3 linked regions of the Homo sapiens genome follow. The protein of the gene in region 1 interacts with the protein of each later gene in a biochemical or structural test. Each region holds a gene or a part of one and is shown in the gene's direction. Other genes may lie near its edges.

Region 1 (7,280 bases):
AAGTCTTCCTGAACTCTAATTTCATTTGAACCTCTTGTGGCTCCTATAGGATGGAGAGGGACAGATACAGAAAAAGATTCAGGGGGTTGTCTAAGGTCACAGGCTTGGTTAAGCGGTACCATTAGGAGTAGTAGGTATGTTTTTTGGCTCTTTCTACTTGTCCACCTTTGGACTTGTAGTGTGTGCTCAATTACAAATGCCTCTCAACTTATGATGAGGCTGTGTCCCAATAAACCCAATCGTAAGTTGAAAATACTGAAAGTAGAAGATGCATTTAATACACTTAACCTACTAAACATTATAGATTAGCCTAACCTACCTTAAACATGGTCGAAACACTCACATTAGCCTACTGTTGGACAAAATCATCTGACACAAAGCCCATTTGATAATAAAGTGTTGAATAGCTCATGTAATTTATTGAATACTGTATTAAAAGTGAAAAATGAAATGGTTGTATGGGTACTTGAAGTACAGTTTTTATTGAATGCCTAATGCTTTTGCACCATCGTAAAGTTGAAAAATCATTAAGTTGCAGACCATCTGTGCTTAAAAGCAAATAAATAGGTCATTTAACAAACATTTTAAAAGTGAAATCATGAGTTAATTTTCTTTTATCACTTGGTAATTGTCTGAACTAAGTGGCTAACTGCTCAGGACATAGCAGATGCACCATCAAGCTGGGCACTTCAAGCTGTCTTCTAGAAATGAATTTCTGTGCTTTTTAGCACTGCTTTTTGCTTGGGGGTGGGAAAGGGTGGTCTCCAGTAACTGCTAAGATGACACCTATACTGGCTGCTGTCCGAGCAGCCCTAGTGACTGTCTTGGGGGCAATCAGTTGCTTAATGGTTAATACAGAAGTACCTGAGTAATACTTTGCAAAAGGACTTTCCCCGACCTGTGCTGGGAGTGTCTCCCTGTAAACTTTGCCAACCTCCTGGTTGTTTTATCAGTGAGAGCATCATTTAAGTGAAAATATAAATTAAGGAGACAGGGCTCATAGGACGCACATTAAAACACCTGATCATTTTGAGCACCTGCTGTGTGCAAGGCACTGTTCTAGGCCAACAGTATAGATATACATTGCCTCCCATCTTTTAAGGCTGATAATGAAGAGAAGAACATGGAAGAGGAAGTTGTTGGGTTTTTTTTTTCCAGTCAGAAATACTGAAAGATTTCTTACAGCTGTCTGGTTTCCTGATACTTAAATTGTGAAACTTTAAGTTCACTCCATTATCATTTCTAAAATTTATTTTGAATAAGTTCCCTTTCGGGGGAGATACCCATGTGTAGAGAATGGTATGGAAATCTGCCAATGGAGGGATTAGAAATTTTGTCAGTTTAAAGACTTGGACCTTTTGAGATTTTTGTTGTTGTTGTTTTGTTTGTTCTTCTTTTCTGAGATGAAGGCTCACTCTGTCGCCCAGCCTGGAGTGCAGTGGTGCAATCTCAGCTCACGGCAATCTCCGCCTCCTGGGTTCAAGCAATCCTCCCTGCCTCAGCCTTCTGAGTAGTTGGGATTACTTACAAGCATGTGCCACCACACCCAGCTAATTTTTGTATTTCCTGTAGAAATGGGGTTTCATCATGTTGGCCAGGCTGGTCTTGAACTCCTGACCCCAAGTGATCTGCCCGTCTCGTCCTCACAAAATGCTGGGATTACAGGTGTGAGCCACTGCGCCTGGCCTTTCTGGGGTATATTTGGCTTAAGTTAGTTGGAAGGGCTCTCTTTATTTTTTATTCTGCCTCCCACTGAAGAGACAGAGTTCGCTCTTGTCACCCAGGCTGGAGTGCTTTGGCGTGATCCCAGTTCACTGCACCTCCATCTCCTGGATTCAAGTGATTCTCCTGCCTCAGCCTCCCTAGTAGCTGTGATTACAGGCGCCCGCCACCATGCCTGGCTAATTTTTGTATTTTTAGTAGAGATGGGTTTCACCATGTTGGCCAGGGTGGTCTTGAACTCCTGACCTTAGGTGAGCCCGCCTCGGCCTCCCAAAATGCTGGGATTACAGGTGTGAGCCACCGTGCCTGGCCCTGTCTTGTAATTTAGAAGAGCAAGTTTAAATACTTGGGATGATGTATTAAAAAGCCTCATCCATGCTGACAAGAGCAGGGCCTGTAGTAGCCTTTGTTGTTTATCCCCTTCATCCTGTTCTGTACTTCATTTTCTCTCATTACTGAATTAGCTGGCAGCATTCCTTATTTGCCACAGAGCTATTTCTTAAAAGCTGTACTTACACTCAGGATACAGTTTTCCTTGGTATAGAACTCTTCCATGGCATTGCTCTTTCACTGAGCTTTATTAACCCTCAGGCTTCCAGTACCCCTTCTTCTGCTCTCCCCACTTCATTCCCTATCATCTTACAAAGGCTTCTTCAACCAGGAATTGGCATGAGCTGACCGTGTATGGGAAGAGATTGTCAGTTAACCTCATTATTGTAAATGCTCAGTGTTCAGAATGCTGCTACTTAAATGACATCCTATAGAACTGCATGAATCGGGATACATTTAAATAATCCAGTTAAGTGGCTGTTTCTTGATGGTTGAGGCTCTGCTTTTGGGTTGTAGAACACTGGGAAGAAGTCTTCACAGCTCAGATAGTTTTTTAGTTGGTCTCATTTCCTTTCTACAGTCCATGCTTCAGGCAAAGTTACATATTGCCTGCCTGCCCACACCTTTCTGTGAGCATCTGAAATCTTGCTCACTCCTCTTTATTGACACCAGACCATACTGGTTGGAAGCTTCTTTCCAGTCCCCGCTTTCCTCCCTCCATTGGTAAAACATCTGGTGGGGAGGTCTTCGTGTGGTCTTTGGGCCTACCCTTGGGCGCTGGTACAGTGAGACTGGAGAGATGGGTGTGTATTCATTCTGCCTCCCACTGAAGCAATGACGTCTTCTTGGTGTTTGGGTCTCTGGGTGCCCCCACTCTTCCTGTAAATGTTAACCCCCACGGAGGTGAGGGGAATGGAGAAGCTTATCTCAGAGAGGCTCTCTGGAGAGGGAGGACCACTTCTGCTTTCCAGGGGGAAGCTGTGTCACGGAGAGCAGAACTGTAGCCCGATGCTGGAGAGAAAAGGCCCCAGAGGAGGCAGGCAAGGAAGTGATACTTCCTCCACCCCAGGCCCCTGGGTCATTTGCCTGCAGCCCCACCTTCCTTACCACCCAATGCTGCGTTTTCCTCGGGGTTCTTTCTACCCTCTGCTGCCCTCTGCATTTTCGGTTTGCCCTTAAGTGAGGGGTGGGGCGGGGTGGGAGAGAGGAGCAGTCTAGAGTCTTAAGGGCAGAGCCTGCTTTGCGAAGCCCACCCTGGCCATGCCTGACTTTTTCAGCAACGGAAAAATGTACATTTTGAAATTCCCCGTCATGGAAAGTGTTATGAAACTCTTGGGTAGACGTTTCGAAATCTTTTAATGTTCAGGCTACATAATAATTTTTAAATACTAACTATAATAATTCAGGACTATTTTAAAAATTGTTAAATTCCTTGTTAAATTCTTGGGATAGAACAGTGGCTGTCAAACATCTTTTTTTTTTTTTTTTTGAGATGGAGTCTCGCTCTGTCGCCCAGGCTGTAGTACAATGGTGCAATCTCCACTCACTGCAACCCCTCCTCCCAGGTTCAAGCGATTCTGCTGCCTCAGCCTCCCGAGTAGCTGGGATTACAGGCATGCACCAATGCACCACCATGCCCGGCTAATTTTTGTATTTTTAGTAGAGACAGGGTTTCATCATGTTGGCCAGCCTGGTCTCGAACACCTGACCTCAGGTGATCTGCCTGCCTCGGCCTCCCAAAGTGCTGGGATTACAGGCATGAGCCACGCGCCCAGCCTGTCAAACTTATTTGACCACAACCCATAGCAAGAAACATTTTACCTTGTGCTCAAATACACATATCTGTAGGCAAAACAAAATAGAAAAAGGAAAATACAATCTGGTGGAACAGCCCCTCCCCTTAACTTGCAGGGGAATGTGGCCTGGAGCAGCTTTTCTGAGGTAGGATTGGCCAGCTCCATCAGAGTTTGTTTGTTCTGATGCATAATAGATATACATAGTTTCAGGGCACATGTGATAATTTAATACATCATATAATTTGTAAAGATTAAATCAGTATTTGCGATAGCCATCACCTTAAATATTTGTTTTCTTTTTAAATGCTGAATCTTTTGAATTCTTCTAGCTGTTTTGAAATGCACAATAGTTAATGGTGAACTCTAGTCACCCTACCAGGTCTTATTTCTTCTATCAAACAGTATATTTGTATCCATTAATCAACATATTTTCATCCCCCCTTCCAACGTACAGAGATGGGCAGTCCAATAGGGAGGTTTATTAAACAAACACAAATTAAGTCACATTCATATAATGGGATACTTTGTAAATATCTTAAAAGATAAAACATTCAATTACAGTTACTAATATGAAAAATTTTTTTTCAAAAGCTGAACACGGCCAGGCGGCCAGGCGCAGTGGCCCTTGCCTGTAATCCCAGCACTCTGGGAGCATGAGGCAGGAGGATTGCTTGAGCTCAGGAGCTCGAAATCAGCCTGTGCAATTTGTCTCAAACAAACAAACAATAGCAAAAGAGCTGAACACAAACTAGTAGATGACATGATACCATTTCTGAAATAAAATATTCATATATGGACACATCATCTATAAACTGCATTTCAAACAATTTTTATACTAAGATCTTAATAGTGATTATTTCTGGGTGACAGTTGAGTGCTGTTTTTACTTCTGTACGTCTTTATATTTAAAAGAATGAGCATCCCATATATACATAAATATATATATAAATCCCACATATAAATATATACATAAATCCCATATAAAAATATAAATATATATATATATATATACACACACACACACACACACACACACACATATATATATATTTTTTTTTTCCTGAGACAGAGTCTTGCTCTGTCACCCAGGCTGGACTGTGATGGTGTGATCTCGGCTCACTGCAACCTCCACCTCCCGGGTTCAAGTGATTCCTGTGCTTCAGCCTCCTGAGTAGCTGGAATTACAGGCACACACCACCATGCCCAGCTACTTTTTGTATTTTTAGTACAGACAGGGCTTTGCTGTGTTGGCCAGGCTGGTCTCGAACTTCTGGCCTCAAGTTATCCGGCTGCCTCAGCCTCCCGAAATCCGGGGATTACAGGCATAAGTCATTGCGCCTGGCTCCTTATATGATTTTAAAACGGCAGGATATAAGGAGCAATGGAATGAAGCCAGTGGGACTGCAGAAGGCAGGTGGAAGCAGACAGGGAACTTTGGAGCTAGAGTGACTTGAAGGACGCTTGATGGATATAATTGTAAGAGTCCTGTCTCAGGAGAGCTGATGCGCTGTAAATGTTGTAAATAGAACATTTTCTTAAAGAACCTTCCACTGCTATGTTTAGTATTCAGTTTAGCAAACTTTTCCTGGGTAGCTACTGGGAGTCCCGCACAGTGTTAGGAGTTGGGGTACACACCTGCCATGTTGGTGGAAATCCTGAAGGGAGTGGGCCACACACCCTGGAAGAAGGGGCTTTCCTGAGGAAGGACAGCCTGACTATGCAGGGGTCATTCCACATTACCAGAGCTTGTTCCAGAGAGGCAGTGGGAGGCTCCACAGGCAGGCTTGGAGGGTGCTTGGCCCTAATACTAAATGTTGGACTTCATGGCATTAACGAAGGGGAATCACTGGAGCCTTTTAGTATGAAGCTAATCTTTTTGTCCATCACAGGCAACTTCTTGCCTACACTCTTTTACAATATGGCATTTATGACATAGCCAAGAGCGAAGACACGTTGAACACTGACTTAATGCTTTGAGTAGGTGGAGAGTTGAATGACTCAAGGCTACTTCTCTAGAGATTAATTTGAAGCTAGAAAGTAACATTTATTTCTGTTTTCTGTGACAGCAATAGGCTTCAGCTTGTAATCGTCATCTGCAAGTAGGTACTTGACACCTCCCCTAAGTGACCTGGAGAGTGACAGATACAGTAATGGGCACAATCCTTGGTTTTTTGTTTTGTTTTGTTTTTGAGACAGAGTCTCACTCTGTCATCCAGGCTGGAGTGCAGTGGTACGATCTCACTCACCAGGGATTTGGCCACCACGCCTGGCCGAATCCCTGGTTTTAAGCAAAATTTTAATATGGAGTTTATGGTTGTTGGTATAATGAAATGCGGCACCATAGCAGTTGATTTTTGTCTTTCAGAACCACACTGGCTTTTTGTATTATTTCAAATTTGATAGATGCCCAATGTATGTAACAAAAATTTTCCCTCACGTGTATTTCTTTCTTTATTTATTTGTATGTTTTGAGATGGGGTCTCACTCTGTCGCCCAGGCTGAAGTGCAGTGGTGCTATCTCGGCTCACTGCAACCTCCACCTCCCAGGCCCAAGCCATCCTCTCACCTCAGTACTGGGTAGCTAGGATTACAGGCCCCGCCACCAGGCCTGCGTAATTTTTTTGTTTTTTGGGAGGCCAAGGCAGGAGGATAATTTGAGCTCAGGAGTTTGAGACCAGGCTGTAACCCCAGGCAGGAGTACAGTGGTGCAGTCATAGCTCACTGCACCCTTGACCTCCTGGGCTCAAGCCATCTTCCCACTTCAGCCTCCAAGTAGCTGGGACTACAGGTGTGTGCCACTATGCCTGGCTTATTTTTTGTAGAGATGGGGTTTGGCCATGTTGGCCAGCCTGGTGTCAAACTCCTAAGCTCAAGGGATCCACCTGCCTCAGCCTCCCAAAGTGCTGTGCTGGGATTACAGGCGTGAGCCACCACACCCAGCCCAAGTATATTTATCGAGTGCTGTATGTCATGATAGTGGGTGGTTTGGGGGAATACCAACATAAATAAGTGGGAGGTTTCTATCCTAGAGGAGTTTATTGTGCTCTGTTCTCTCTGGATTGTTCACAAACCAGAATGCCGATCAAAGACTTTGCTAGGGTTGTGGGTGGGCGACTTGCTCAGGAGATCCCTGGCACCCAAATGAGTGCCCAGAAATCACTCTGAATGGTCAAAAGTAAGGCAGGGCAGGGCGGTAGAGCACAGGGTGTCGAATTAATTTCATGTGGGGGCTGAAATCCCAGGTCTGTCCCTTCCTAACTGTGGGCTGCTGCTGGCAAGGTGCTGGCCTTGCTAGCCTCAGAGTCCTCATGTTTAAACCTCAGCAGTTTGTTGTGAGTGTTCTAGGTTACAGTGGATTCCAAACTAGCCACAAGTGAAGCACATGGCTAAATGGTAGTCATTGGTATTGTTATCAAAAGCAAGTTGCTTAGC
Region 2 (7,712 bases), on another chromosome or scaffold:
GAGGCAGAGGTTGCAGTGAGCCGAGATGGCACCACTGCACTCCAGCCTGGGCAACAAGTGAAACTCGGTCTCGAAAAAAAGTTCATCCATGTTGTAGTATCTATCAGTACTTCATTCCTTTTTATTATCAAATAATATTTTATTGTTTAGGTCTCCCATATTTTCTTTATTCATTCATCTCTTCATGGACATGTGGGTTGTTTCTGCTTTTTGGCTTTCATGAATAATGCTGCTGTAAACATTTGTGTTCAAGTTTCTGGGTGAACATGTTCTTATTTCTCTTGGTTATATATGTAAGAGTGGAGATGCAGGAGTGTATGGTAATTCTATGCTTAATCTTTGGAGGAACTGTTTTGAGACTTTTTTCCAGAGTGGCTGGACAATTTTATATTCACACTAGCAATATATAAATGATTTAGTTTCCATACATCTTTCCAGTATTTGATACTATCTTTTATTTTAGCTGTTCTTATAGATGTTAGTAGTGATATCTCATCATGGTCTTAACCTGTCTAAAGGCTAGTGATGTTGAATATCTTTTTAGATAATTATTTTCTATCCATATATCCCCTTGGGTGAAATTTCTCTTTATATCTTTTGCCAGTCTTCTAATTGGATGATTTGATTTTTTTATGTAGTGTTTCTATGTTGAATTTGAGAGTTCTTTATATATTTGTTCTAGATAGGAGTCCTTTGTCAGATATGTGGTTTGCAAATATTTTCTCTTAGTCTGTAATTTGTCTTTTCATTCTCTTAACTAGGTCTTTTACAGAGCAAAAAAAAATTAATTTTGATGAAGTTGGATTGATTTTTTTAGGGATCATGCCTTTGGTGTCATGTCTAAGAACACTTCATCAAGCTCTAAGTCTCACAGATTTTCTCCTATGTTATCTTCCAGAGGTTTTTTGTTTTTATTTTATTTTACTTTTTAATTAAGACAGAGTTTCGCTCTGTTGCCCAGGCTGGAGTGCAGTGGCAGGATCTCAGCTCACTGCAACCTCCGCCTCCCAGGTTCAAGTGATCCTCCTGCCTTGGCCTCCTGAGTAGCTGGGACTACAGGCACGCACCACCCAACTGGCTAATTTTTTGCATTTTTATGTGGTTGCTTTCGAGAATTTTCTCTGCCTCTTGTTTTTAGAAGTTTGACTATGATGTGTCTTGGCATGAATTTCTTTGGGTTTATCCTGTTTGTGATGCGCTCAGCTTCTTGAATCTGTAGACATATGTTGTGCGTGTGTGTTGTCAAATGAAGATAATTTGCAGCCATTACTTCTTGGAATATTTTTTTAAGGCCCACCCTCCTTTTCCTCCCCTTCTGGGACTTCAATGACAAAATGTTAGATCTTCTTTTATTATAGTTACTCATGTCCTTGAGGCTTTGTTCCATTTTCTTTCATCTATTTTCTTTCCATTGTTCAGAATGGGTAATTTCTATTGTTATACGTTTTGTTTCACTGCTTCTTTCTTCTATACTCTCCATTCTGCTATTGAGCCCATCCATTATGGTTTTTATTTCAGCTCTTGTATTTTTTAGTTGTATTTTTTAGTTCTAAAGTTTCCATTTGGTTCTTCTTTATATTTTCTATTTCTTTGCTGATACTTTTTATTATTTTATTTGTTTCAAGCACATTTATAATTTCTCAGTGAAACACTTTTATGATGGCTGCTCCAAAATCTTTGTCAGATAATTCTAACATCTGTGTCGTCTTGATGTTTGTGTCTGTTAATTATCTTTTGTTATTCAGTTTGAGAATGCCTGATTCCTAGTATGACAAGTGATTTGCCATTGAAGTCAGGATATTCTGGGCACTGTGTTATAAGATTCTGGATCTTCTTTAAATATTTTGTTTTAGTGGGCTTCCCTTTATACTGCTCCAGCGAAATAAAGTAGGGCACTGCCTGATTGCTTCCAGACAGGGATAAAAGTCCAGGTTCTCCATCCAGCCTTTCCTGAACCTGGGGGGTTGGGAGAGATGAGGCCTCCATGTTATTGTTTGGTAAGGGTAGAAGTTCAGGTTCCCCACTAGGAATCCATGACAACTCCCTGGCTGGGAGTGGGAGGGATGCTTCATTACTGCTCCCTATGTGGCTTTCACTGACACTGTGTGTGGCAGAGAGAGGGGGGTGCTTGTTACCACTGAGTGGTGGCGAAAGTCCCAACTCTCCACCAGGCCCCCTTTGACACTACTCCAATGGGGCCGGGTGGAATGCCTCATTTCTGCATTGGGGTGGCAGTGGATGTCCAGGCTGCCCACATGGTTTCCACCAACACCACATCGGGGGAGGGTGATCCCAGTGGGGAGGAATGTCCCAGCTCCAACTCTAGCATCACTCTGGCTGAGTATGGGAGTGGCCTAGGGTTCTTTGTTACAGCCTGGTGAAGGTGAATGTCTAGGTTTTCCATCCGGCCTTTGCTGACAAGGGTGATGATGGAACTTGGATGGAGCGGAGCAGGTATGGACTAAAAGAGCTCTGTCTTTCTAGGATGCCCCTTTCCTCGTTCTTTGGCTAGAAAAGCATAGTTTTGCTAGAACTTGTTCTGTTGGGACTTTTTCTTGTTTGTGCCCCTTGGCATTTTCAGTTGTTGGCTTCTCCAGTATTCAGCCTGAGATATATGAGGCAAAGAGAAATCCCAGGGAATTCACCACCATTCCTTAAGTCCCGAGGTTCCTAACCAGTCTGCTTCTCTCCATCTTTCAGTCTTCTTATGCTTGTCTTGTCACGTTCAAGGTTTTCAGTTATACTTGGCAGAATAAATAAATACATCTACTCCATCTTTCCAGAACATCACTGCTTTTTGTTCATTTTATTTATTTATTATTTACTGAGACAAGGTCTTACTTTGTTGCCTGGGCTGGAGTGCAGTGGTGCTATCATGGCTGACTGAAGCCTTGAACTCCCAGGCTCAAGCGATCCTCCTGCCTCAGCCTCCCAAGTAGTTTGGACCACAGGCATGGGCCACCATGCCCAGCTACTTTTCATTTTTTGCTTTTGTTGACTAGCCCCACAGAGTTTTGCTGTGTTGTTCAGGTTGGTCTCAAACTTCTGGCCTTAAGCAATCCTCTTGCCTTGCTCTCCCAAAGCGTATTACAGGCATAAGTCACCACACCCAGCCCTATCGGTGCTTTTGGAAGAAGGTGTTCTTCCCTCTCTCTGTTTCCCTCCCTATGGCCAGCTGCCCATAGAGGGCAGTGGTGCTGGAGTGAAGACCTCTCAGCGCATCCCTCTTCATCTGTAGGATGTGCATGGCTTCCAATGCTGTCTGTTCTGCTCCTGAGACACTCGCTGGCTACAGGATTATAAAGGTGATGAGGTTTCAGCCTAAAGACTCTCCATTCAATAACACTTCCTACAAGATATCTTTTTTGTTTTTTTGAGACAGGATCTGGCTCTGTCACCCAGGCTGGAGTGCCACAGCGCGATCTGCTCACTGCAACCTCAGCCTCTCGGGCTTAAGTGATTCTCCTGCCTTAGCCTCCTGAGTAGCTGGGACCACAGGCGCCCGCCACCACACCCAGCTAATTTTTGGATTTTTTTTTTTTTTTTTTTTAGTAGAGATGGGGTTTTACCATGTTGCCCAAGCTGGTCTTGAACTCCTGAGCTCAGGCAATCCACCCGCCTTGGCCACCCAAAGCGCTAGGATTACAGGCATGAGCCACCATGCCCAGTCCTACAAGATATCTTTTCTTTTTCTTTCTTTCTTTCTTTCTTTCTTTTTTTTTTTTTGAGACAGAGTCTCACTCTGTCACCCAGGCTGGACTGCAGTGGTGTGATCTCTTCTCACTGCAGCCTCCGCCTCCTGGGCTCAAGTGATTCTCCTGCCTCAGCCCCCTGAGTAGCTGGGACTACAGGCGCCTGCCAAAACACTTAGCTAATTTTTTGTATTTTTAGTAGAGACGGAATTTCACCATGTTCGCCAGGCTGGTCTCGAATTCCTGACCTCAAGTGATCCACCCGCCTCAGCCTCCCAAAGTGTTGGGATTCCAGGCATGAGCCACCGCACCCGGCCGAGATATCTTTTTCCTCCTCAATATCTATGTGCTCCTCCCTCAACCCTTGGGGGCTTCAGTGTAGGTGGTCAGATTCCCCACCATTTATGCCTATGATGAAAAGAGTGGAAATGGTAATAACTGGATGGTGTCACTAAACTACAAATACTTTCAGGTAGGCCTGTGCCTTTTTCAGCGGGCTGCAGTTCTCCTGCTTGGCTTGAGTCATTCGCATTTCCTGAGAGCTGGGTAGAGGGGGAGTTGTGGAGGAGCCCATTCTGAAACTGATCTGATATTGCAAACCCATACACGGAAAGGAAGAACTGCCCATACGTATTCGAGTCTTCCAATCTGACTCCGAGCCCGCATCCCCCTCAATCGTCTCTTTTCCCCACTCCCCAGATCACGGTGCTGCTTGGTCCCCCTCAGAGCCATAGAGAAGCAGGGGGTGTGGCCATGGAGGGGAAACCTCTGTCACCAGAGACTTTACTGTACTTCTCCTTTTGCTCTCAGATGCTGCCAGGGTCCCTGAAGAGGGAAGACACGCGGAAACAGGTAAAAATCATTTTGCTTTTATTTTGCATTCAACAAGCAAGTTATTACGGAACAGCAGTTATGGGCCAGGCATACCTCCCAGAGCTGGGAACACAGTGGGGACCTCCCTGGCTCTCTCTTACCGGTGTTACAACAGGTTGTAGACAGACCCCTGTCTTGAGCATCCTCCTTGCCAGGCCTGCTGAGTCTTCTGAGAGTAGGGTAGGTTATTGGATGCCCAGGAGGGAAGAAGGAGCCAGGGAGGTCAGCCCCAAGGTTCTGCAAGGCCCTCAACAGGCCTGGACTGAGGAGGTCTGGACAGCATGGCCCTGTCCTGAGCCTCTGTGCATAATAACTGCTGTCCCTAACCTCCACCCCACCCTCAGCCTTCCAATTCCCGGGCCTGGGGCCCTACTCCTGTGCTCCAGAGACTCCTGGAGCTCCTTGAGGCAGCACACAGTCCTGCTCTGGAGGCGCCCATCTCCCACTCATGCTGGGATGCTCCAGCCCGTCCCAGAGCAGGTTGTGGCTGGAGGGTGCTGGCAGAGGAGGGACAATGGCCCGGCTCCTGGAGGCAAGTGTTGGCTGCAGGGAACGGAGTCTAGTCCTTGCCACAGCCCTTGTTACCCCTTAGGTAACCTTAAGGGGATTTCAAAGAACTCTGGCTCTGCAACCCTGCTAAGTTTTTTATGGAACATGTAAAATAGATCCCATGGCCAAAGAAGTATGGACAATGTATTATACTATACTCTAATCCCCATGTCTAGAGATTAATGGTGTAGATAGAGTTTACTGAAAGGTTTTTAAAGTCCTGCAGTAAAGAATCTTACTTAAGCCAGGTGCGGTGGCTCACGCCTGTCATCTCAGCACTTTGGGAGGCCAAGTTGGGGGGATCACCTGAGGTCAGGAGTTTGAAACCAGCCTGGCCAACATGGTGAAACCCCATCTCTACTAAAACAAACAAACAAACAAACAAATCAGACGGGTGTGGTGGCACATGCCTATAGTCCCAGCTACTCAGGAGGCTGAGGCAGGAGAATCACTTGAACCCTGGAGGCAGAGGATGCAGTGAACTGAGATCACACCACTGCACTTCAGCCTGGGCGACAGAAGAATGAGACTCTGTCTCAAAAGAAAAAAAAAGAATCTTACTTAACTCTTTTACCCTGCCTTTCTCAAGTGTATGTGACCTTGAAGATGTTTTTTGCATGTGACATGATGAGTACCTGCGGGGCTGATGTCAGCTCTGCCTGGGGAATCTGCCTCAGCTTCAGACCCTGCACCCCAAATTCATGCTTAGCCCAGGCCAGACCCCCTTCCTGCTGTCGGCAAGCAGCTTAGCTTTCCGCACACCCATGAACAGATACCCAGCAGCCTTTGGCATGAGCCATGTGGCCCGAGGAGATAAACAGACAGAGAGAGGAACATTGATGCGTGTGAAATGTTGGCAGGTGAGTGGGAGGGGCTTGGGTTGGTGCTGAGACCGGAGACACACTCTGCTGTCACATCCTTCAGGGTCCCCGGGGGCCAGCACGGAGGGCCATGATCATGTAAATTGGGACTTAAATTTAACTCTATGTAAATATAACTCTATGCAGAGGTCAGGGATGGTAGAGGACAAGCTCACTGCAGAGAAAGAAAGAAAGATGGGCAACAGTTGCAGAACCTAACCCACAGATAGGTTTTGTTTGACCAGCTCTGTACATTTTTAGTTTATTTTTTATCTTTTTGAGACAGGGTCTTGCCCTGTCGCCCAGGCTGGAGTGCAGTTGCATGATCTCGGCTCATTCCAACTTCTACTTCCCGGGTTCAAGCAATTCTCCTGCCTCAGCCTCATGAGTATCTGGGATTACAGGTGTACGCCACCACGCCTGGCTAATTTTTTGCATTTTGAGTAAAGATGGGGTTTTGCCATGTTGGCCAGGCTGGTCTTGAACTCCTGACCTCAAGTGATCTGCCTGCCTTGGCATCCCAAAGTATTGGGATTACAGGTGTGAGCCACTGCGCCTGGCTCACCCATACTTTGTTACTGGTTTTAGAATTCCTTTTTACCTGGTCTTTCAAACCAAGTTTTGACCATGTCTGTCCCTGAGTATAATCCTTGATGAGTAGCACCAGAGAGAGCTCCACGTTACCCGGGGCCTGGCATTCAAAGCACTCAGTGGTCTGGTGCCACTCAAAGCCTGTGAGCCAGGCAGGAAGTTTATAAAATTAGAGATGGATGAATGGATGGATGGGAAAAAGCAAGCAAGGGAGGAAGGAAGGAAGAAAGGAAGGAGTTCTGGGAAGAGAGAGAGGCTGCCCCCGCAGGGCTCTCAGTTTGAAGGAGAGGTGCAGCACACTCAGAAAAAACTCCCGGCCAGGAGTGGTGGCTCACACCTGTAGTGCCAGCACTTTGGGAGGCCAAGGCTGGCAGATCACCTGAGATCAGGAGTTCAAGACCAGCCAGGCCAACATGGTGAAACCCCATCTCTACTGAAAATACAAAAATCAGCCAGGCGTGGTGGCACCTGCCTTTACCCAGCTACTTGGGGGGCTGAGGCCAGAGAAACGCTTGAGCCTGGGAAGCAGAGGTTGCAGTGAGCGGAGATCACACCACTGCACTCTAGCCTGGGAGACAGAGCAAGACTCTGTCTCAAAAAAAAAGAAAGAACTCCGTGAGCATCCCAAATGCCACATCCCCATAATGCAACCAGACCCGGTCCTCCCGGATCCAGGGGAAGGGTCGGAGCTCAGTGGGTGAGCAAGAAAAGCCACGTGGAAGAAGTAAGCGGCCAGATGGCTCAAAGACAAACTCTCCCCTGCTCAGGCTTGCACCCAGACACGACACCATGCATCTCCTCGGCCCCTGGCTCCTGCTCCTGGGTAAGGACTGTGGCCTGGGCTAGTACTGGGGTTCTGGGATGTCAGTGGGCACTGGAGGAGGAGGAAAGACCCAGGCAGAGAGGCGTCAACATAGGGTAGGGTGGGGGCAGCGGTGTGTATAGATAAATGTACATACAAATATATATGTTTCCCATATATACATACACTTCTCTCATTGCATCCTGCTGTCTTTGTGTATCTCTGTATTTCTCCCACTATCTTCAGAGGGAATTCTTTAGTCTTTAGAAAGCTCTCTGCTGGGTGCAGTGGCTCATGCCTGAAATCTCAGCACTTTGTGAGGCTGAGGTGGGAGGATCACTTGAG
Region 3 (7,280 bases), about 25 Mb from region 1:
TTCTCTGTCTGCTACTGACTTTAAGGCTTTTTCCCCCTTGAAATGTCCAGATTCCTGTGGTTCATCCCAAGGAAATTTTCACACAAAGCTTGGCCTTTGCCCTCAATATAGGTGTTTTAGGATGGTGACAAACCATGGCTGCTGCTTTCTGCCCAGCTCGCCAGTCCTCCCCAAAGAGTTGCGCATCAGCACCTGGGGATCTGGACCCTGCGGGTGAAGGGATGGGGAGGGACGTCCCTGGAGTCTCTTCTGTCTTTGTTCCTTCTTATTTTGGCATTCGATATCAGCAGCCTCTCCCCAAAGTACTTGAAGTCAGTTTTAGATGCTTTATTTTATTTTTCTAGTCAAAAACGTGTTTCCCCCAGTGTTTGAAAACTCGTCCGAATCTTTTCAGTATTTTCCATGAGTATTGTGGTACTTCTAGACTTGTTTAAGCCCAGAACTCATTCCTTCAAAACAGAGAGCCTTAATCTTTATGTTGGGACACAGACCACATATTTGGACGGCAGCCATGCATCCATCGCTGAAGGGCTGTGGACATGAATGTGTATTTCCCATGGTCTCCGCTGCCCACACCAACAGTGTGGCATCTCATAAGTTAACTGCTACCCTAAGGTAATCTAAGATTAAAATGTAAACATTTATTTTTGTTATGTAAGTTTATAAGATGTTTTATGTTCAATGCCTAATTTCTCAAAAGTGCCAGAAAAAAATGTATATTAGCTATTTTGATTTTATGTACAATGATTTATACTCTCCTTTTGAAAAGATACCATAAAGCACATAAGCTAGATCACTACAAGGAGCTGTTATCTTTTTTCTAATCAAGTGTTTAAAACACTGATGGTTTTTAAAGACTCACCTTTTTAAATGGTACTTGGAGCTCCTGATTCAAATTACCTAGACCCCCTAGAGAAATAAATGGAATATACATAAATAATCATTTTCAGTGGTTTATGGTGGGCAATATTGCAATATTTGAAATGGTAAAAATGGAAAGAAGAACAAAATATGATGAGAGGTGGCTGTGAATTATAAACCTCATAAAAGTGTCATAATTCCATTAAGGTTTAATTATATTTTTTCAGAAAACAGTGATGAATTCTGTAGTCCAGTGCTTGCCAATGCAAATTGCCTATTGGAATCTTCTTCCTATATTTTACAAACATCAGTGGCTGAAATAGCTCAGAGTAAGAGCTCAGCCTGGTTTGAATTTAATCATCTCTTTAGATCTTATAAGGCCAGCATTAGGAAACTTGTTCACTTTTCATTTTCAAAGGAGCCTAGTTGAAGTGCTATTATGAGTGTGGGCTATGGAAAGACAGCTTTTCCTACACTGATAAAGAAAAAAAATGAGGAAATTATTTCATCCCCTTGTGACATCTGTGACTTTTTGGATTTAATAATCTTGCTGTTTTTCCTCTTTATGACAAAGAATATAATTGGGAGGATGAAGTGTCTTAAAAATTGTAGAGACCAGCTCACTGGAATGTTTTTCCATCCCTGTATTCATGGCTTGACTTTGTGACTGCTCTACACTGCATGTCTGACATTGCAGAGTGAGCTATGTTGAGGTAAACTGGTTGGTTGTCATTATTTTGCAATCAGCCTGGTCTCTCCCATGAAGATGTCGTGTGCATAAGCACAATCATCACTGATTAGAAGATCACAGCAGAATACCCTTGGATTAGAGAGAAGTTCGTACCTTGCATTTCTCTGAATTCTAGTCTCTCATAAGCACTGCTTTGCTGGATGATTTTCACTGCTTTGTGTTAATGACTTTGAGCGATCTCTCACATGATGGGGTTCTTTAGTACATGGTAACAGCCATGTCATCTTACACACCTAGCATTGTGAATGCTGTAGTGACATCCTTTATAGGCACCTTACAGCTCAAAACTTTTGTTTCATTTCATGCCTTACTTATCAAAAAGGCAGGAAAGTAGGTATGATCTCTAAAGTAAAAAAAAAAAAAAAAAAAAAACTTTTTATAGAAAGCTCATAAATAATCATGTCATTTTGCAATTTTGTTACCAAAATTTCCCCCAAGAGTTTTCAAATATTAGTTCTGCAATGTGGCTATGAAATATGCACTGAAATATACCTTTTAATTTGAGAACCAGTGGTTAGAATAAGCTGTGATATAAAGTATTTTCAGTGTACTTTTAAAGGAACTATAAGGCCCTCCAGCATAAACGCTAAAAGAATAGATGGTAGCACAGGCCATGAGGGCTGGGGGAGAGAAGCAGAGTGAACCTTAGAAAGATGGCTCAGCTATTTGGAGCACTGGATATTTTACTGAAGTTATTTACTGAGGCACCATCACTGTTTTGACTGTACAGTATAGTTTTTCATAAATTTCATCACATTTACTTTGTTCAGAATCTGGGCTTGAATCTTTGAGTTGGACAAAAGCCTATGGTTTCTTTTAAAAAGTTTCATCTTGAGCTAATGCTACAGTTTAAATAAAATGTATGAAAGGTAGTTATCAAAAACAATTTGTATATTTAAAATTCTATTTTGACATCCATTTTTTACAGCGAATTATAGCAGGTTATGTGAAATTTAAAAATAAATTTTAGGAAATTTTTTTATCTTGTAAGTAAGAATTATAAATCTATCTCAGTTAAAAGTAGGATCTTTGTTTTTATTCAGATATTTTGAAAGTTTAGAAGCATTTTGTATGCTACTTTGGTATTTCTTAAGTATAGTCAGCAGGAAAGGGTAACCTGTTTTATGCAAAATTTTTTTAATTTGTCAAATGTTTTTAGTGTGTCTACTTTCTGAAATAGTCTCAATATCCTGTCTGTATCCTAGGCAGATAACTACACAAGAACAAAACGCTATATAGAAAAGAAAATATTTGAGGAAATCTTAAATTCCATAAGAAAGTAATTCTTGCAAGAATGTTGGCTACATATTTTTTTTTCTGTCCTGAATAAATTACATCATTAGGTCTGTTGAAGCTTTTGAAGCTACCACTATTCTTTCTGGGATAAAGGCTAATTACTGATTTATCTGCCCTCAAAATCCCAGAGTTAATTCTAATTGAGTACTAAATTAACAGTAAGTAGTTAACACAGAGAACTAAAATTTAACCGCATTATATCACTGTATATATTTCTCATGATTTTTGCTAATTAGAGCATTTACTTAACCAGTAATAAACTACACACACACACACACACACACACACGTATACGTGTGTGTGTGTATATACTTGGCTCTGACACAACTCTGGTGCTTAATTAGGATATGTTCTATTATGTATTTTGAATGTTTATCCTGCTAGTGTGATGAACTTTTGTTGGAAAAGCAGAATTAGAAGGAACAGTTTTTCAATCAGTTTCATTTGGTAATTACAGGAAAACCTTGAGTTGCTCTAATTTAATTTTTCCAATTAATACATTTAGACTTTAAATTGCATCCGTAATTCTCTTGGCTGAAAAACAGTGGTATTTTAAGACAGTTTTGTTATACATGTGACTTACTTTTGACTCAGCCTGAGAGGAGGAAATGTAAAGAGATAAGAGATTTGGCCCAAAGCAGCAAGAGACTAGTAACCTTGAGCCAGGACGAAGCCAAGACAACGTGACTCCCAAGTAGCAGGAGCAGAGGTCGGTCACCTGTGGCATTCTGTTTCATTCCCTTTTAAAATTATGAGACTTTATAGGCAGTGTAAAACATCAGCAGGCAGCGATGTGATAGGATGTGCGAAAAAGCTGGTCTGATACCATGGCTATAATTACAGAGCTTTAGTTCAATTAGGATTTTGTAAATGAGCAAATGACCTTTTTTTCCAGTGCCCCTTGTAATAGTTAATATGAGTCCATGCAATCTTGTGATGCCATTCTCCTGAAGGTGTTGATTTCTGGTACCCAGCCAGCTTAGCTTTGGCTGCTGGAAGCACAGTAGGTACTGATGATTACTTCCTGGAAATCTTGACAGGCTTATTGTACTGTGTAATGGGGAAAAGTTAAAGTATAATGTTTGGTGTTAATAAATGACTGATGTGAAAATAGGAACATGTGTCTTTAATATCAAATATGGCTTTATTTGCAGTGAAATCTAAATTCCTTATTCTACAGTAGTATTTTCTTGCCCTGTGTTGTATATTTTCCTAAATACATTTTTCCTGACAGTGGCTTTAGGCCAGTTGAACACACTTAGACTGAAAGTGTTTAACTTAAAGAGATCAGTCCAGAAACCATGATAAATTAGAATCTTTATCTGGAATTACCAAATTAAAATTTAAAATCATGGTCCAGAAGAGAACAAACATTCATGGTTTTTTTTATCCTACTGCTCATTTTTAGGTCTGTGTTTACATCTAGTCTCTACTATTTGTGAAGTATGTCATTATTTTTTTCAAGTTCTTCTTTGACTTAACTGAAAAATAATATTCCAAATTCTTAATGTAACATGAAAAGAGAAATACAATTTTTGCTTAAAAGACATTTTTTAAAAAGCGTTCAATTCAGTAATCATTTCTGTTAATACAGGAAGTTTTTTTGGCTTGCCAGTTATATACTGTGGGTATTTTTTAAAATGTGCTACCCTTGGGTTGTCTCATATCACCTTGCGTAATCATGTATTACAAAGGTTGATAATTGTCATTTCTCAGATGTCTGTATGTTACATTGGCAGCAGTAAAATGTTTTAATGTTGTTACCTTTTAAATAATTGTGTTGTATTAACATGCCTCATATTTTCTGGGGAAACTTGAAATATATCTAAACAAAAAAGGTCTGTTATAAATAGGAATTGGCATTTCATTGTTAATGTTTTTTCCTCATAAAAATAGTTACACCAAAAGTGACATATTGTCTATTACATGGGCCCAATCAGTATTAAAGTACTCCCCTTACTCAAAAATATTAAAAAATAATTCATGACACTTAGTAGCATTTTCATTGATTGTTTCAAAAGATCTTCATAATGGTCAAATTGTCCAATTCACAAAAGAGTGAGAAAGTTGTTTTCAGTACTGGGAATTTTTAAACCTTAGTTTTAAGACCAAAAATATCTCTTATTAGCTTGAACATTTTGTGATTACTTTTCCCTCCCCGGATCTAGTCCTTTTAAGGAGTAAGTCTAAAGAATGAGGCCATGAAGTCACTATTTCCTCCCACCTCAGTTTGTCTCCTGGTACTTAGCTGGCCTATCGCTTTGTGTGGCAATACCCCTGGGTCGCTTCCCCACTCAGCCTTCTGTATCTGCTGTTCACAGGACATGCCATTATGTCTTTCCAGTACGGATCACAGTGCTGCCATATCACAGACCCTGCCAGCCGGCACAGAACCATGCCTCGTCACAGCTCTGCCCAACTCACAGGCTGCCAAGATGAGGCCACAGGTCCACCTAGGGCGGCAGATGCTGGTGCTATTTGTCACGACTTTTGCCAAAACATGTACACTGTTGCTCACATCTTTCGTAAGAATGGTTGACACTAAGGGGCCATGGAAAAGCACTTTTAAAAAATTATGTGGTGGAATCAAACTCACAGAGGCAGAAATGTTAGTGCCGTGCTCTAACCAAGTAAGCTTAGTGTTCCCCACAGTGATCTGTATCTGGCCTGAGTCTCCTCAAGCAGCAACCCCCACTGTCCAGCATGTGGAAGGTAGATCCTTATGACAACACCAGACCCATAGTTACCAGGAAAGAAAAAGGAAGCTGAGTGTTGTGAAGGGGAAGAAATCCTTTTTATAAGAAGTAATCATTTTTAGGCCGGGTGCAGTGGCTCATGCCTGTAATCCCAGCACTTTGGGAGGCTGAGACAGGTGGATCACTTGAGGTCAGGAGTTTGAGACCTGCCTGGCCAACATGATGAAACCCTGTCTCTACTAAAAATGCAAAAAAAATTAGCCAGGCATGGTGGCATGTGCCTGTAGTCCCAACTACTCAGGAGGCTGAGGCAGGAGAATCACTTGAACCTGGGAGGCAGAGGTTGCAATGAGCTGAGATCGCAACACTGCACTCCAGCCTGGGCGACAGAGCAAGACTCCATCTCAAAAACAAAAACAAAAAAAAAACCTTTTTAAAGTAAATTGAGTGTAAAATGTTTTCACCATGAAGCCATTGCACCCTCTCCCCCAGGAAACAGTGCCTAAGGATGATGTCAAGTTACAGCCAGTTTGCTCTGATCCCCCAGGACCTAAGAAAACTGTGAGTGCTTCAGCATGCAAAGGTAGAGCTACCAGATAAGGAGAATAACTTGGCCATTTATAGCAAACTGCCTGACTTTGGAGTGAGAAACCAAGCACCTTCTAGGTCCTAGGATAGGTGAATTGGAGGTGCAGCTGCTGAAGTTCCCATTTTCTACATACTTCAGGAGCCAGGGTGTTTCATTTGGTTTTGTAAAACTTTGCTGTAAGTCATCACAGTTAATTCTTTGAATGGACATTTTAGAGTGTAACTTTTTTTCAAAATTAGCAGAACAGATATCTCTGCTCATTCTCTTTATACATTTAGTTTTTTAAAGTTCCCCTAGTATACCTGTTAGGCACTCTAAATAGGACACAGTTAAAGCTAAAAGAAGGACCAGTTGCTCCCTAGAGCCTACAGTTCAGAACTATCTTGTTGTCATGTCCTGGTTTGGTTTGGTTTGTTTTTAACTCAACAAGTTGGAAACCATGAGTTTAAAGCAAACTATTTCCTTTTCTTAAGCTTAAAGAGAATTTTTTTTTTAATCTTTAGCTCCTCATTTAGGTAGTGAAGGCTTCCCTGAAAGACAGCAGTGCCCTTCTCTGGAAGAAGAGGCTGGGACCAAAAGCCTGAGTCTATGGGTTGAGGATTTTGAGCATTCCTTTGACAAGCTTCTATGTATTTTTAATATAAGACTCATAAATGAACCTGATGTGGTGTTCATGACCCATCCCTTAAGCATGCTTGCTTTTTTTAACTTTACTTTTTGAGTATAGTACTTGTCTTGTTTTTCCTGGAGCCATGCTAGGATTTAATTCCTATGTGCCACTACCCGCCCATGTCCTGGAAGATGGCCATGCCTGCAGCAATGCTCATGTCTTGAGGAGAAGCAATGTGAAAAGCATCAGGAAAGCTGAACCTTACGTTCAAGTCAGCAAACATTTGTGAGCATTCTAGTATGCTTGCGACCTTGACACTTTTTAAAAATTATCTTTTTATTTGCTTCGAGTATCAACCGTATAGTTGACTCTAGTGGGGCGAAGGGAGCAGAGATGAGAGCAAAATTCAGACTTGCTGCCCCTGTGTGTCTCAGTTCTCATGTCTCTCTGAGAAATGTGTTGGCCCAATTCCCTATC

The links. The genes of interacting proteins can lie anywhere in the genome.
Region 2: of the proteins of LYN (region 1) and CD22, one has a biochemical effect on the other in vitro, tested with the Homo sapiens proteins (one study listed by BioGRID).
Region 3: the proteins of LYN (region 1) and PAG1 form a complex in vitro, tested with the Homo sapiens proteins (one study listed by BioGRID).

The regions. Positions count from the first base shown.
Region 1 is NC_000008.11:55,882,718-55,889,997, forward strand, and holds part of LYN (tyrosine-protein kinase Lyn), read left to right. Parts: intron 1-7,280. UniProt on the Homo sapiens protein: Non-receptor tyrosine-protein kinase that transmits signals from cell surface receptors and plays an important role in the regulation of innate and adaptive immune responses, hematopoiesis, responses to growth factors and cytokines, integrin signaling, but also responses to DNA damage and genotoxic agents.
Region 2 is NC_000019.10:35,324,687-35,332,398, forward strand, and holds the start of CD22 (B-cell receptor CD22 isoform 1 precursor), read left to right. Parts: upstream 1-4,500; 5' UTR 4,501-4,544; intron 4,545-7,332; 5' UTR 7,333-7,354; coding exon 7,355-7,388; intron 7,389-7,712. UniProt on the Homo sapiens protein: Most highly expressed siglec (sialic acid-binding immunoglobulin-like lectin) on B-cells that plays a role in various aspects of B-cell biology including differentiation, antigen presentation, and trafficking to bone marrow.
Region 3 is NC_000008.11:80,968,857-80,976,136, reverse strand, and holds part of PAG1 (phosphoprotein associated with glycosphingolipid-enriched microdomains 1), read left to right. Parts: 3' UTR 1-7,280. UniProt on the Homo sapiens protein: Negatively regulates TCR (T-cell antigen receptor)-mediated signaling in T-cells and FCER1 (high affinity immunoglobulin epsilon receptor)-mediated signaling in mast cells.